Regions from separate parts of the Homo sapiens genome. Here region 1 is linked to region 2. The links come from fine-mapping of genetic effects on gene expression. A gene starts in region 2. The other region holds a variant in brackets. All regions are shown on one strand. Distances are between the middles of the regions. Region 1 overlaps LOC107986047 (a long non-coding RNA gene). Region 2 holds the start of SUCNR1 (succinate receptor 1).

Evidence for each region. PIP is the estimated chance that this variant, and not a neighbour inherited with it, causes the effect.
Region 1: its variant is fine-mapped to the expression of SUCNR1 in whole blood (TOPMed, PIP 0.97).

Annotation. Positions count from the first base shown.
Region 1 is chr3:151,928,656-151,937,461 of GRCh38, reverse strand. LOC107986047 (a long non-coding RNA gene) reads left to right here. Exons shown (of 3, transcript XR_001740567.1): 2 at 5,016-5,137; 3 at 6,786-6,910. Among named protein-coding and RNA genes, the nearest start is that of AADACL2-AS1, 4.9 kb to the right of the region's middle. The variant G/A (reference allele first, on the strand shown) is at 4,593.
Region 2 is chr3:151,868,407-151,877,212 of GRCh38, reverse strand. It overlaps SUCNR1 (succinate receptor 1), which reads right to left and starts at 3,570. Exons shown (of 3, transcript NM_033050.6): 1 at 3,507-3,570. All of the region lies in intron 1 of AADACL2-AS1 (AADACL2 antisense RNA 1), which reads left to right.

The DNA.
Region 1 (8,806 bases), 60 kb before region 2:
ATATTAAAATTTTAGTGTTTTAATAAATGTAGGAAGATGAATGGGAAAAATGAAATTGCTTATGGAAATAAATGTACACAAATATGTACATTTTCTAAATGATGATTAATAATATAGTTAAAGCCCATGGACATGCAGTATTATTTATCAGACTACATCCAAGCAGGGTGGAAGCAAAAAACACTTATGCAGCATGTAAGCCAGCCTCTGACCAGCTTTGGCACCTAAACAGGAGTCATATTTTTGTAGGCATGAATGTGTTTTGAACAATGAATCAAATGTCTTCTGCACAGATAGGGTTTTATTTAACACCAGAACCATGTCTTTTTCTACTTACATTTCCTGGAAAATAAGTACAAATTTTGTAACCAGTCTATGAATAATTAAGTACCTTCTCATGAATGACAGACTTCAGAAGGTTCAGAATTTCAACCTGGGTAAACAAGTATATATTTGTATGTCTGTCTAGGTTTATGTGTACCTAAACTCCATTCCATAAACCATCTCACAAAAATGTTTCTGAAGCCCTCTCCTGCCTCCCACTTCCCACATTTCATGAAAAGATATGTGTGTGGAGGATGGTGGCTCTTCATAGGATTCTATTTAAGTGTTTCTGTCTTGAGACCAGTCACAAGGCTACTTTAGAAAGTAGAGCATTTTCTCAAGATGTTCCCCACATCAGTAACATTCTGTTTGAAGAAGAAAGTGCTTTTAGTTTATCGGAGAGATTATAGATACTTTTTACCAGTGAAAAGAGCCAAAAAATATTTTGATGATTGTGAACCAGGATAAGAAAAAAAGACTTCTATGTTCTATTAAAGGAGGAAGTAGAAGTGGAAACCAGTTATTGTGTGTATGGCGTGTGATGTGTCAGGTCAGGTAGCGGTCAGTCACAAGGTGCCTCACTTCTGGATGTCTGTTCCTCTTGTTTCATTCAGCATCTATTCTTTTTTTATTTCTTCAGTTATATCCAATTCAGCTAAATGAAAATGTTCAAACCATCTCTCACCCCCCTCACCCCATATACAACTAAGGTGGACAAAGAACAGATCACCCAGGGTTTCTTTTCAAGGCACAGAAGATACAGTGGGTCTTCAAATGGCCACTGAGGTGACTCTAGCATCTTTCAGTTAAAGACTCTCCATTTTTTCGGTTTCTCAGAGACTGGATGAGATAGAAACTACAGAGATAATAAGAACATTTAAATTCTGTGTATTGTTTAAAGATTATACAAAAGTAGTCATACTTTTTTTACTTAATATATAGAAATTTAGATAGATATATATAACACTCTCCCTTTTTAAAATATTTTATTTTTAATTATTATGAATACATAATAGTTGTACATATTTACCCTCCCTTTGAATTTTGATTTGTCAAGGAGATCTTGGGCTTTATTCTTCTCTTATGTGATTCACCTACAACTTGTTATCAGTCAATAGGTGGCTTACCATGCCTGGATAGGGCATCCTTGCCTGAATAGAGTCTAAACTGTGCAAATAAAAATTATAAATCAAAGATATGAGGGTATATTCTATTCAAACATATAACTGTACAAAAAGCAAATACATTTTTTCCTGTAAAAGTGCAGTGTAGTTGCCTTTTATGTGTATTTGACTTGCATAAATTTTTGTTACTACAAAATAACTTAAAAGTCTATTTATAAATTTTAAAATAATGTTAATTTGAAAATGATAGTGAATTATAATTGTGTTTGTACTGTTGCCCACAGTGGCACCACTATAAGTGTCAGACAGAAATACTGGCTCTGCTCTAACGAAGTAAGTCTTGGATTTTGCAAGTATTTATTATGCAAGAGTTTCAGAGATGTATATATTGCATAAAGTGTGGTGAATGTGACCAACTTGAAATTACACGATCTTTGTGAAAAGTTCAGACAATTCAAACATATAAAAAGGAGAAAGTAAAAACCCTCTGCTAAGCCACTAAGAAATACAATTATTGTCGCTAATTTTTTAAAACTCGCTAAAAGAGTTAAGCAAAATATTGACATACTTGTCTTATGACACAAAATTATAGTAAGATTAGAAGAAATACTGACATCAGTTAAACAATTTACACTTAAATGCTAATGCTCCATAACTATTGCTTATTTTGATTTATCTCCATCGTCACTCCCACTGTTAGATTTGAATAAAACACAACTCCCTGGATGCCTTCAGCCATGGAGTAGTCCTCAATCCTTTCATTCTCCTAAATACAAGGTCTTTTCTGCTATACTTCCAAAATACACCTCCACTTCTCCCGCTTCACCCCATGTCTGCCTCCACTGTTTTTGTCTAGTCCTCCATCACATTGCACTAGAGCCAAAGCCTCCTGAATAATCTCCTTCCATCTGCCTCTGCCCCTCTAACATTGCCTCTCCATTCAAAAGCCAACAGTGTTAATTAATGGTTGGGTTCATTTATCCAAGCATTCAAGGCCTTGAACCTATTTTGTGCCCAGCACTTTTTGAGGCACTAGAGACACATTCGTGAACAAAACAAAGTTCCTCTTCTCTTGCAACAACTTGTAGGTCCTGGAACTTCTCAGGCTTTCTTGGGCCTACAAGCTCTTGCTTGGGCCATTCCTTCTGCCCAGAATGCCTTTTCCTTTATTTCTTTACATGGCTTACTTGCACTAGTTCTTCAAGATTTAGCAAAATGGTCACATCTTTAAGGAAGACTTCTGTGACCCCCATCGTACCCCCTCAAGTCTGGGTTAAGTGCACATCTCTCTGCTTTCAGTTTCTTGTGCATTCCTGTTTCTCAGCACTCCCCCATACTGTATTATCATAGTGAATTACCTTCCTGTCTTCATGCATTAGACTGTGAAATCTTCCTAGGAAGGAACTCTGTGTTTCCAATCTTGTTTATTGTATCATTACCCTGTGACTCAACTTATCAGTTATTGGAATATGGTTGAGAAAAAGGGCCAGAGAATTTCAATTCAGCATCATAGAGTTATGAGGCAGAAATAATATATATAATGAAGAGTCTCAGCTTCAGAAATCTATTCTGGGCTTTTCCTTTTGTACCTTCTGAAAGGGTTTTAGAATTTGGTTGGTTGTGGATGACCCTATTTAAGGCAGGGGTCACGTAAGAGGGAACAGGTTTGCAGAGACTCAGAGACTGAAAATAAACATAGCTAATAGTGAACACAATTTTTTTTTTTAACATGGAGTCTTACTCTGTCACCCAGGCTGGAGTGCAGTGGCATGATCTCGGCTCACTGCAACCTCCACCTCCCAGGTTCAAGCAATTCTCCTGCCTCAGCCTCCCGAGTAGCTGGGACTACAAGCACTTGCCACCACGCATGGTTAATTTTTTGTATTTTTTTTAGTAGAGATTTAGTTTCACCATGTTAGCCAGGATGGTCTTGATCTCCTGACCTTGTGATCCACCTGGCTCAGCCTCCCAAAGTGTTGGGATTACAGGCGTGAGCCACTGTGCCAGGCCTGAACCCATTTTTAATGTTCCAACTGTGTGATTCTCTGCAAATTACATGAAAGCAAGACTAATACTTTTCATGACTATCCCAATAACTGATATCTAGATCATGCAATACCTAGTTGATTTTTCTACAGGCAGATGAAAATGTGGTGTGATGGCAGTGGTGAGTTATATCCATGAAGTGTGAGCTCTTACTTATTTCATTCACTGGCAATTTTCTGACTCTTCTTGAAGTTTGGGCTCATGTTAGGCCTATTCATCTTCATCTTTCCTGTTTCTCCAGGCATAGGAATGTGGTAGGGTGTGTTAGGCAGTGGTTTACATTCAAACAAAATTGGTCTGATCTCTTAGAGAATATGTTTTTCTGAGATTCTATCTGCAGAAAGAACATTAAATCCACATGTGTTGTTTTTCTCTTGTTGCCATTGACATTCAGCAGTCAACATCTGGTCTGTTTTTAGTTTTTTAAAATTTTTTTCTTTCTTTTTGTTTTAATGCAGCTTTTTTAGTTTTCTAAACTTACCCCAGATGCAAAGACTGTCTAAATGCTAACCTTTTCTCCAGGGCTTTATTTTGTAGTGTTGATGACTCAGCAAATGATTATTATCACTTTCCTCTGTAAAATGAAGGATGACAATCCTTACGTTCTCTTATGCATTTCTAAAGATGAATTGATTGCGTAAAACAAAATGCTTTAAAATTTAATTTTATGCTTTTCTAATTAATTAAAGGGGTACTTTAAAAATAATGGAAAAAAACCTGGCTTAAGGTATCAGAACAATAACATATTCTTCATATGGGCTCAGAATGAATTGGCTTGACTTTGCAAAAGTCAAGGGATTTTTTCTGCCAGTGCTGAGTTCGTTCACCTTCTTAATCTTGGTTTGAAATGTGCAATATTATGTGTAGAGTGGAGACTGGGGATCCCAGAACAGAACAGAATATCCCTTTGAGTTTTTTTTTTTCTTTTTTTTTTAAATTTTGCTCTGTCACCCAGGCTGGAGTGCAGTGGCGCAATCTTGGCTCACTGCAACCTCTGCCTCACAGGTTCAAGCGGTTATCCTGCCTCAGCCTCCCTATAGCAGGGATTACAGGTACGTGCCACCATGCCTGGCTAATGTTTGTATTTTTAGTAGAGAC[G/A]GGGTTTCACCATATTGGCCAGGCTGGTCTTGAACTCCTGATCTTAAGTGATCCACCCGCCTTGGCCTCCCAAAGTGCTGAAATTATAGGCGTTAGCCACCGTGCCCGGCCCTTTGAGATTTAATATAAAGAATTAAAGATTAATATTAAGACTTGCCTTAGAGTGACTCATGGATTCAATAGTCGTCTCCTTCTAAAATAAAATAACCCTAGGTTTTTTAGAGGGAAATGATTAGAGGTTCTGACTAACCAAGTTTCAATTCAAAAGGGCCAAAATTTACTTTTTAACCTCAAGCCAAATGAACTTCTTGAATCTCAGCCGATTTTATTTTATAACTGGAAAGTACCGGGACCACCCTGAAAAAACAGATGATAATTTGCCTTTAAAGAAAAAAGGTTTATTAAATAAATATTGATTTCCAGGAGAAAAGCTCAAGACACAGATGTCCACACCCAACAACTAGCTAATCTACTTTAAATGCCAAAGATGAATACAAAAAAAGAAAAAGAAAAAGAAACTACAACTTTTATCTGCAATTTGACAGGTACATGAAATACTTTGACCAAATTTTAGTTGCCTGGAGCTTAGGTTCCAAATGCTTTACTTCTTTAGTTTAAAATATTTAATGAATTTTTAATTAAAATATTTGAATATAAAGTGCTATTTAAATAATTTTTTTTAGTGTTCTCATTCTCCTTTCCCTATGACTAATGATTGAGGAAATAGTCATTTTCACTCAAATATTATTTGAAGCTAGTTGTCTCCTTTACCTCAAAAATTAGCATTAACACTGCTGACTATTCACACCTTTTTCTTGTCATTTTTCATTAAGAACATTTAGCCTGAGAAGGCACAAGAGAAAATGTAAGATGATCTGCAGAGTGTTTGTACTTCAAGTTGATGTGTAATCTTTTCAAATGTTTTAATGTTAATATGTAAATAAATAATTCCCTGCATACATTTACTAATTTACATCAGAATATTTTAGAATTTTATTCTATGAAGCTGATTTGTTTATGCAGTGTTGTGAAATTGGTATTAATATACTAATGAGTAAGACCTAGTATGTACTGACTGATTGCTCCTATTGGTAAATTTTATATTTGGGGAAAATATAGTCAGGTGAAATACGTTTTGATAATAAGGTTGAGTTTTTCTCAGAAAATTAAAACAATGTTATCGAAAGATTTACTTACAAAACACCTTATTATCCAGATGTCAGATCCATAAATACTATAGAGATGTGAAAGTTATTCCCCTTACTCCCTAATAATGAAGGACCCCTCAGTAACTATGTAGTTGGTTATCTTTTTAAAGGGTTGAGTGGCAAGAATTGTCAGTGAATGTTGACTTCATTTTTCTCACTTTGCTTTCGGTGATAAGATGCCTTTTAAAGCAAACACTATTCAAAATTTGAGACAGAGTAAAATTATTAAGTCTGGTCTTCCAAATCATGTTCTCTCTATGAAAATATAGAGTCACAGGACTCCTGGCCCTGTGTTTTTATGAGTCATAGGATTTCTATGGTGAAAAATAAAAGATGAATAAACCTAAGATCTGAGAAAAATAAAAAGAACCCCTTCAATACAATGTTATGTCATGACCAGGCTCTCTGTTTTTGATATATGTATGTGTGTGTTTATAAAGAAAATTTTTCAAAAAATTATTTTGTCTCATCTTCAGAGCTTCTTGGGTTTGTAAAAAATTAGATTAGAGGAAGTAGCTGGCAAGTTAGGCATTAGAAACCAAAGCCTGCCAGTGCCAGACCAGGCATGGTGGCTCACACCTGTAATCCCAGCACTTTGGGCGAAGGTGAGAGGATCACTTGAGGCCAGGAGTTTGAGATCAGCCTAGGCAACACAGCATGACCTTGTATCTATAAAATATTAAATGAAAAAATATTTCCAGGTGTGGTGGTGCACGCCTGTAGTGCTAGCTACTGGGGAGGCTGAAGCAGGAGAATTGTTTCAGGAGTTTGAGGCTGCAGTGAGCTATGGCCATGCCACTGCACTCCAGCCTGGTTGACACAACAAAACCCTAGCCCTTAATTAAAAAAAAAACAAAAAAACAAAAAAGCCTGCCAGATGATGCCTATGATTTCAATGAAAATGACAACAGGAGTAACCTTAATGATGCAGAAACAATACAGTCCTGGCTTACCAAGTGCTCTTGTATCCACTTTGCTTTAACAGAGCAAATTTTTATGAATGAATCCAGATGGCTACTCCAGTTGCCTTCCAGCATATGGACAAAGGTGAGAGTGATTTTTTCTGATATGATATTCTGCTTTCTAGTTGGTGACAAATATTTTACCCCTTGAGATGAATTTTAAAATCTTTCCCTTGGCCAGGTGCGGTGGCTCACGCCTGTAATCCTAGCACTTTGGGAGGCCGAGGTGGGCAGATTGACTGAGTTCAGGAGTTTGAGACCAGCCTGGGCAACACGGTGAAACTCCATTTCTACTAAAAAAGAAAAAATTAGCCAGGCGTGGCGGCGTGCACTGATAGTGCCAGCTACTCGGGAGGCTGAAGCAGGAGAATTGCGAGACTCCATTTCCAAAACAAACAAACAAACAAACAAACAAAAAAACCCATTTCCCTTTCTGGATCAGAGCACAAATGATACAATTTTTAAAAAATACCTTGGTTTTCTTTCTTGTCTGTTTGCACAAACCTGCTTTCAACCTCATGATTGTTTCTTCCAATTGAGATCTGATTGGCAAAGCCACAGACTAAGCCACCTAGTCTCCCCCTTTGATACTGTCATGTTTTAGTTAGAGAATATCAAAAAAGAAGGGACCTTAAGATCACTTGGTCCAACCCCTCATTTGTAAGACAATGAAACAGGAGCAGAGAGGTGAAGGGTCCTGTTCAAGGTAACATGGCAAAGTAGTAACAGGTTTGGTTTAGATGTAGCAGAGGGGCTCTTTCTTCTACATTCTTTGGGTTGTGCAGCTTCTTCCTTTTTTTTAACTGTTTATTATATAAATGTTGTTTAAAAGTGGCCATTTTTTCCTTTTCTAACTGAATAATATAAACATGATATGTTAGGCTGATATCACTGGTGGTGGTGGCTGCCTATCACATGCAGTCCCTTCCTTTCTTGGGCAAGGAATGGGGTAAGGAATTATCCATTACTTTCGGTGTCCACAAAAGTAAGAAATGATGGGCGCTTGCTTTTGCAGATTTTGCAGTACCGAGGATAAAGGCATATAACCTGCCAGGAAATCCACTCTAGAGCAAGTGATGCAAAGATACAGGGACAAAGGAGATTTTTGTCCCAGTGCAGGTAGCAGAGACAAGAGTTCCAGAGTCTGAACAGTGCTGGTGACAGCGCTAATGACAGGCAATGTCCGGGGTTGGTAGGGGCAATACCTGGTATTCTGCAGTGCGGCCATAATGTTTCCGGAATTGGTGGGTTCTTGGTCTCACTGACTTCGAGAATAAAGCCGCGGACCCTCGCGGTGAGTGTTACAGCTCTTCAGGTGGCGCATCTGCGTCTGGAGTTTGTTCCTTCTGATGTTCGGATGTGTTCGGAGTTTCTTCCTTCTGGTGGGTTCTGTGGTCTCGCTGGCTCAGGAGTGAAGCTGCAGACCTTCGCGGTGAGTGTCACAGCTCATAAAGGCAGTGCGGCCCCAAAGACTGAGCAGCAGCAAGATTTATTGCAAAGAGTGAAAGAACAAAGCTTCCACAGTGTGGAAGGGGACCCGAGCGGGTTGCCACTGCTGGATGGGGCAACCTGCTTTTATTCTCTTATCTGGCCCCACCCACATCCTGCTGATTGGTAGAGCCCAGTGGTCTGTTTTGACAGGGCGCTGATTTGGTGCGTTTACAATCCCTGAGCTAGACACAAAGGTTCTACACGTCCCCACCAGATTAGCTAGATACAGAGTGTCCACGCAAAGGTTCTCCAAGGCCCCACCAGAGTAGCTAGATGCAGAGTGTCGATTGGTGCATTCACAAACCCTGAGCTAGACACAGGGTGCTGATTGGTGTGTTTACAAACTCTGAGCTAGACACAGAGTGCAGATTGGTGTATTTACAATCCCTGAGCTAGACACAAAGGTTCTCCAAGGCCCCACCAGAGTAGCTAGACACAGAGTGTTGATTGGTGCATTCACAAACCCTGAGCTAGACACAGGGTGCTGATTGGTGTGTTTACAAACCTTGAGCTAGATACAGAGTGCTGATTGGTGTATTTACAATCCCGGAGC
Region 2 (8,806 bases):
CCTAATTCATCTTCCTTTCTTCCTGCTCTTTGAATGCACAGAGAGCCTTCTTAACATGCAGTCCCTCTATCTGAATCTCTTTTCACTGCTGTTTTTGTCCTGTGATTCCTGGCCCATCACATATTTGTCATATATCTATACTTCTCTCAGGCCTCTGTTCAAGTGTAGGTTTCCCAAGGTAGGCTGTCTGACCCTCAGTCTAAAGTAGGTCCTCCCATTTATGCTTTCATTGTATACTAAACTTCTTAGAATTTTGTATAACTTTGTCTTACTCATTTTTTATTGTCCACATCTGGCACAGTGACCAGCAGATAGTAGGTGATCTATAAATCTTTGTTGAGTGAAGAGATGAATATGAACACCTGACTATTTACAAAGCATTTTTATAAATATTTTCTCCAAGGCCAGATAAGCAGCAAGACCATCAGATTAAGCTCATTGCTTATTTCACTGTGAAAGTCAACACTATATATAATATAATATGATAAGTATTAAAAATTAGTAATTGTAGTAGTAGTAGCTGTAGTTTAGAAACACATTTGTATAAGGCAAAATTAAATATCTACCAGGATAAATTTTAAAACTGAAGCATTTAATTAAGAAATGACACCTGAAATTAATAAGCATAAGAAGTCTAGAAAGACGTGCATCAAAATGTTAATAGCTTTATCTCTAATGATGAGATTTCAGGTAGTTTTTATTATTTCCTTTCTCCTTTTATCTAAATTTCCTATCATTTTTTCTCTCAAAATTGGCATCTATTTGATAATATTAAAAACTTTAAATTTCTAGAAATATAGCAAAAATGTCAATAGGCTTTAACATATTAACAAACTTTATTTTTTTTAGCTCAATGGTCAGTTTTTACTATTATTATTTATTCTCAGTAGCTTTTAAGTCCACACTTTCTGGAAGCACTCTCTTCCTATCTTCTATGACACAACAATCTCCTTGTTTTCCTCCTTTCTCCATTTTCATGCTCTTTTGTGGCTTAATCCTTCTTTGCCCAAGTTTTAAATGTTGGACCTTCTCAGGCCTTATTTCTGAGCTCTTGTTATTTTGTGGGTACTCAAAAAGCTGGTGCACAAATTCAAATGAAAATTAAGGTATAGAAAGTTTCCTTGACACAAGAAATTTGTTTCACTTTTGCATTTCCTTTTTTTCTGGTCATAACGTTTATCTTTCTGCCTAGTCACCACTGGTAATGTTAATAGCTTATGTATTGTGCACAGCAGAAAGATTTGACTGCAATGGAAGGAAAATATAGCCACAAAGACTTGTGCAACTAGAGCCTGATTTCCTGCAACTATCACTCAGGCAGGTGACGGGTCACATGAAAGTCAAGGAGCATTCTGCTTTATAGTAGCCCAGAAGGTCGGGGATTGAAGGAGTAGTAGGGAAGGAGTAGAGCTGAAATAAGAGAAATGAATGACTAAATTATCATATTTGTCTTTCTTCTCATACAGTTGTTTCTTCATTTTTTTGAAACAACTTTTTAAAAATGTATGTGTAAAATTATTGTTAAGGTGTAACACTCATAAAATCAAATAGGCAAAAATAAGAAATAAAAATGGTCTGTAAACAGACCACTCCTAATATTTGGGTACCCTTTTACATTTTAATATTTACCTGAATTTTTATTCATAAAAATGAGATTTTTTTATGATGTTTTATAATTTTTTGATACATTTGTTTCATTTTTTCTAAGTTCATAATTCTAATAGATTATGATTTTATAAATATGAGCTGTGCAATATTTGCAGACCAATTTAACTTCACTAGGATACAAAATTTTGAAGATACTATATTTCAAATTGGATATGTTTATAGTTGGGTATGTTTTTAGTGTGGCATCGCAATTCTATAAACATATGAAGTAAGTTGCTCCTTTAAGCAAAACTCCCAATTAAAGAGAAAATTCCCTCATGAAAAATTCATATTCTCTCTTCTGCTATCTAGTGGCTATATTCTTAATTTTTAGGAAATGGAAATAGTGATAAATAAATTGTAACTGATTTGGATGAATTATTTTGAATAGGTATTTTTTAAGAGCAGAAATTAAAGTGAAATCTTTAGTTTCCAGTCCAAAAATATATCTAAAACTGTTAGAATTATTGAACTAGAAGCAATATCTAATTTACTCACATAAGCAGACCAATAATACTTAACTTGAAAATGTTTTTTACTTTAAATATATTCAGCCTTTTGAAAATCTGCATTTTTGAAATTTACTTTAAAATATATATGTGATAGTTTCTTAGCTTTTTAATTGTTTGTTTTTATAGTCATCACAATTAAACAAATAACATTTGTAAAATGTTTACTTTTAAGTGCTACCTTAAGGCAAATTTACATGGTAACATGAGAATTTTTTTTAACAAATTACTTTTTTGATTACTAAATAATTTGAGCAAAAATATATATTCACACTGAAAAGATATAATAATTTAACATTTGTAACTTTATTTTTATGTATTCCATACATTACACCAGAAATTAAGGTATTAAAAAGTAATAGTATGGCACAAATTGTGTATTAACTTCTTTAAGAATACCACACACATTTTGAAAAGTTATGGAAGGTAGAATAGAAATGGTTTCTGCAATTTTTCATTTTTCCTAAGTAAATTAATTATTGGGTAATATCATTTTTACACACATAAATGTTAAATTTAATTTTTAGGATGCCTGAAAATTCCCCCAAATACATTATTTTCTAAACATAAAAATATTATGCCCCAGCACAGTGGCTCATGCCTGGAATCCCAACACTTGGAGAGGCCGAGATGAGTGGATCACCTGAGGTCAGGAGTTTGAGACCAACCTGACCAACATGGTGAAACTCCATCTCTACTAAAAAATCCAAAAAAAATAGCCGGGCGTGGTGGTGGGCGCTTGTAATCCTAGCTACTCTGCAGGCTGAGGCAGGAGAATTGCTTGAACCCCAGAGGCGGAGGTTGCAGTGAGCCAACACATGCTGTAAATGTGTCACTCTGGCACTCAGACACTCTAGCCTGGGTGACAAGAGTGAAACTCTGTCTTAAAAAAAAAAAAAAAAAAAAAAAATATATATATATATATATATATGTATGTATATGTGTGTGTGTGTGTGTGTGTGTGTGTGTGTGTATGTATCAAATACATGATTGTTTCAAATCATTTAGGAACTTTAATTTTTCCCCATAAGTAGTTATATTTATTTAGGTAAATCCAATTACTATTTTGTTGAAATATAAGTTGTTGAGATGTTAGCAAATATAATAAATCCTTTTACATAAAATAAAATTAGTATTTGACAACTAAAAGAAGACAGTTAATTTGTTGAAAAATAAACGTAGAGATAAAAATGACTTTTTTTTTTCAATTATTTTGCTGTTTTACATCTATTTATAAAGAATTAATTTAAACACTTAATACTGAAAACCTTAATTGCTCACAGGTCACCTTTAGAAGGAAATCTGGCCTTACTTTATACACTGAGAGGCACAATTTGCCATGTAGCTTACCATTCTGTTGGAAGACTTGATCCCTTGACAGGAACTCTGCCAGCAGCTGGATATAGCTTCTGACCCAGTGTTGTGCCACTGGACATGGTTATTACAGTGTCCTATTTGCATATCCTATTTGCATATCCTGCAGCCAAGATTAATAATTCAAAAGCCCAGGAATAATTTATTCAGTCAAACCTCCCAGTCAGAGATGTTCATGCAGAGGAATTTTTGTGAGGCTTTTATTTTCACATTCACATTTATTTTATTTTCACATGCAGTTTTGCAATTGAATGACAAAAAACAAGTAACTCATTTCACAGGAAACACATTTACCAAATAGATTTTTAGAAAAACACTGTTGAACTTATTTTATCCACTACCAAAGCAACAGAGAAGCATTCCTTATTTTCATTTTATTTGCATATTTACACAATAAGAAGTGGTAAATACTGCTTATATTGGGAATACAGTTGCCTCTGCTTTTCTTCTTTTTTAAAATTAATTTTCTTAGTGAATTCTGTATTGAGAATATAATAACGAAACCTCTGTTTTCAATAACTTTGAGGGAACTATAAAACTGAAATTTTAAAGGGAAACCTGGATATATGCTATGTTGGTGTACTAGCAAAAAGATACTAGAGCTTCAAGTTATTTTCCATTTTATTTTCTGTGCTTAAAATCAAGAAACACATAAAAGATACATCAGATAGCTAGGGATTAGGGAGAGAGATGCTAAGTAAAATAACCTTAATAGATGGCAATTTATATATCCCAATCAATGCTCTGAAAAACATCTGGAAGTACATTACCACCATTTCAGACAGGAAGCACACCTGGCTTTTTCCAAGCATTATATTAGGTTTAGATTCAAGTAAACACTCAGTCTTCTTGATGTGAAGCATAGGGATTATACTAAGAAAGCCCATAATTGTGCAGGCAGCAGTAATTCAATTTAAATGCTATGTAAGTTGAATATTGAGTTAGCAATGACAGGCAGAAGCCCAAAAAGAAGCTCTGTTACAGGCATCCTCCTAACTAAGCATTTCTCCTCACCAATATCTGACAGCTTAAAAACTCAGGAACTCAAAATATATGTATGTATATATACACATACATATATACATACATATGTGTCTATATTACACACTTTATATACATGTGTAAAATATATTTATACATGTATGAATATTTATGTATACAAACATGTGCATTTACATGAAATAAAAATATCTATAATTTGTTGAGTTCTTGTGATGTGGCAGGCAGGTATTACACTAAGTACCTTTATGCATCAAATGCATATAGTAATCCTCTGAGGTTGTTATTATTTAAGATTTTTCTCATTTTGCAGATTAAAAAGCTAAGGTTCAGAGAGGTCAATTAACTTTCTCAAGATTGCAGAATCAATAACGGGAGGGACCAGAGCTTAAGCCTATGTACTTGGATTCTAAAAGCACCGACTCTGATTCTTGACTGCCTACAGAATTGAATGACAATACCCTTGTGCACAACAAAGTCTAAGAATTAATAACAGGTATTTTTCAGTAATGCAATTCTTTTCTACTTTTAGAAGGAAGAAAGGTTAAAACATTATTTTTGTCTATATTTTTAAAAGGGCAAAAAGCATTTGAATAACCAATGCCAGGCTTGTTAATTTTAGACATAAATTAACATGAACCCCTTCCAAGAAACAAAGACAAATGGATGTATTTCACAGGTTTCTGCCACCATTCTGATGGAAGAAAAGAGTAATTCCCCCTTTGTGGGGTGGTGGGAGTTCCCGAGAGCTTCCTCTTTCTTCGTCCCACTTCCTGACTACCATCTCACTCTGGCTGCTAAGACAAAAATTGGTCTATGCTTCTCCTTTTTCATAGAACACGTCATCTAGACTGTAGCCTGGTAGCCTTGTTTCCCTCCCAAGTCCTACTTCCTGTTTCCTCCGAATGCTCTCAGTTGAGATACTAGAGTGTTACTGGGAAAGACTTACTAAAAGGTCACGAGTATTTCTGCTACAAAGCTTTATGCAGGTCTGCAAAATGATAGCTGCACGGGAACAAGGCTGGATTCAGAATTATGACCCTGTGAGCAGGGTGGGTTTCATGGTATGCTACTGTGTAGTCTCACAGTGCTTCACACTCAAAAAAGATCACACAGTTGAGTTAATGCTCTACTGTCACATTCTTAATTAAAATGTTTCATAACTTCTTAACAAGGGACCCCATATATTTCTTTTGCACTGGGCTCTACTAAATATGTAGCCAGTTCTGCCTGTGAGAGTAGAAACCTCCTCAGAAACTATTTCTATTCAGTATAGCACATCAAATTTTGAGGGGGCAAAGTTTTTTTGTTTTGTCTTTTTTTTTTTTTTACATATAACATGTTGAGATGCACTGCTTGAGAATCAATGGAAGTTTGAAAGGCAGTGAAAGTTTGCAGTACTGGCCGGGCATGGTGACTCACACCTGTAATTTCAGTACTTTGGGAGACCAAGGCAGGCGGATCACTTGAGTCCAAGAATTGGAGACCAGCCTGGGCAAAGTGGCAAAACTCTGTCTCTACAAAAAATGCAAAAATTAGCTGGGGCATGGTGGTGCGTGCCTTTAGTTTCAGCTACTCGGGAGGCTTGAGGATGGCCTGAACCTGGGGAGGCCGAGGCTGCAGTGAGCCATGATTGTGCCACTGCCCTCCAACCTGGGAGACAGAGTGAGACCCTGTCTCAAAAAAAAAAAAAGTTAAGTACAACAATGAACACTTTTTAAAATATATATTTTTTAAAAGCTTGTAGTACTGTTTGCTAAGAGGTAGTATAACACAGTGTTTAAGAGCATAGGTCCTGGAGGCAAACTGCTTTGTTTCAAATATTGGCTTCACTACTCACTAGCTTTCAGTTTTTGTATTTGTAAAACAGGGATAATGAGAGTTACCAATCTTATGAATTGTTATGTATATAGCAGAAGTACATATGCTACATAGTATGAGGTACTAGTATATACGTACACTGTATAATATGAGGTACATATTAGTTGCTAAATAATTGTTGGCTATTACAGAAATTTATAATGAATGAGAGAAGACTTTCTCTAAAATAATAATGGTAATTCAGTGCCATTGATGTTAGAATACTTGCTGCCCAGAAATATCCATTTAAAAGGTCCTTATAAAAGCCAACATGATAAAAAGATTAGTGAGTTCTAATCCTGGCTTTGCCTTTTACTAGTTTGTGTGATCTTTGAAAAAAAATCACATAACCTGATTTCCTTGTTTGGAAAAGGGGAATAATAATTCCTACCCATCAAACTCATAATGTTCATAGTATCAAATTATATAATGTTTGAAAATGCAATGGGCTTGAAATTGAAGAGCAGTTCATGTAAACCAGGCAAACTAATCAGGAAATTCAAGAGGAAAAAGAAAATGGTGGGAAATATAATATAAATATTAATTAAATCCAATGCTAGTAATAACTTCTGCTGGGTCCGGTGGCTCACACCTATAATCCCAGCACTTTGGGAGGCCAAAGCAGGAGGGTCACTTGAGCTCAGGAATTCAAAACCAACCTGGGCAACATAGCAAGACCTCCTCTACTAAAAATCGAAAAAATTGGCTGGGAGTGGTGGAACACACCTGTAGTCCCAGCTACTCAGGTGGCTGAGGTGGGAGGATCACTTGAGCCCAGGATGTCAAGACTGTAATGAATTATGATGGCATCACTTTACTCCAGCCTGGGTGGCAGAGTGGGATCCTGTCTAAAAAAAATTAATAATAACTTCTACTAACATTTTTTCAGCATTCACTCTATAATAACACAGTGTATGCAGTGATTCTTTTAATATTCACAATAATTTAATGCAGTGGATATTATTAATATCACTCATTTTCAGTTGAAGAAATCAAGGCCTAATAAAGATTAAATAAATGATCCACAAATACACAGCTAATACATGATTTGGCTGTATAATTTGAAGCCTTATCTGTTTGACTCCTGAATCCAAACTCTTCTCCATTATTCTCCTGAGTCACTCATGGTAAAGATGAAAATATTAGATTGAAACATAAAATTATTGATATTGGAACATTTTTACCTTATATATGGCAATTTTATATAGTTTAGTAAAATAAATTTAAAACTAACACTAAATTTAATTATTAGTTATAAAACTTATTGATTATCAAATTTAATAATTTAAATCTTCCAACTTCCAAAAAGAATAGAACATTTTAGATAAAAATCAAACATGTTAAAAATAAATAGTTAAAGTATTTATAGAAAGATTCTCCTAGCAACGTCTCTGGGAATGTTTACAAGCCACATTTAACAGCCCAAAAAGTCTGTGTGGAAAACAAAACTGGTTTAAGGGTCATGCTAATCTTCAAGGGTCACAAGCAGAGAAAGAAGAGGGCAATTAATCTAATTCGAGGACTTTCTTCTAAACCCGTAAGGAGAAACAATAATAATAATAACAACCCCCAGAAGTTGAAACAAATCAAGATTATTGGGGAGGATATTTTGGTGTTTCTGGATAGATATAAGCAAGATTACATGGTTACTTCCTTTTTCAATGAATGGTTTCATGTAGCAAAATAATAAAGGACAAACAGCAAAAGGAAAAACACAGCAGAAGGTATTTGTGCATGTCTCAAAATTCTTCCGGCTTCTAGAAATCAATAAATTATATTAACCAAATTTACTTTACCACGGAAAATGGTCTATTCAAAATAGGCACTCAAGCAATCTACTTCCTTTTCCTATGAAAATCCTTGTCATTTAAGAGCTACATTATTAATGGAAATTTTTGCATTACTGACTTTTTTCTGATTATACAGTTAAGAAAAATATGTGTCATATCTATTGGTACTGGGCATAACTCAAAGGAATTGTTCTGCTAAATTAAAACACATTATTTGTTAAAAGCATCTGACTACAGCTAAAATATTCTAAGTTCCTTGAAGTACTAACAATTAACCTAGAAACACAGCAAATTCACCTTTTATCTTTCAGTTTATATGCAAATTCCACAGCTAATTCATTTTTGATAATATGTGCTGAACCTTAATCACAGGTGTTTCTCTATACAAATAATGTTGTTTTGTTTCCTTGAATAGAAATAGCGGTATATGAAATTCAGGCATTTGTGTACAATTAGAGACAGATTTCATTTCCTCTTTCTCTCTCTTTATCTTTTTATTTTTATTTACTTATTTATTTATTTTTGAGACAGGGTCTTGTTCTGTCACCCAGGCTGGAGTGCAGTAGCATGACCATAACTCACTGCAGCCCTGATCTCCTGGGCTCAAGCGATCCTCCTGCCCTCAGC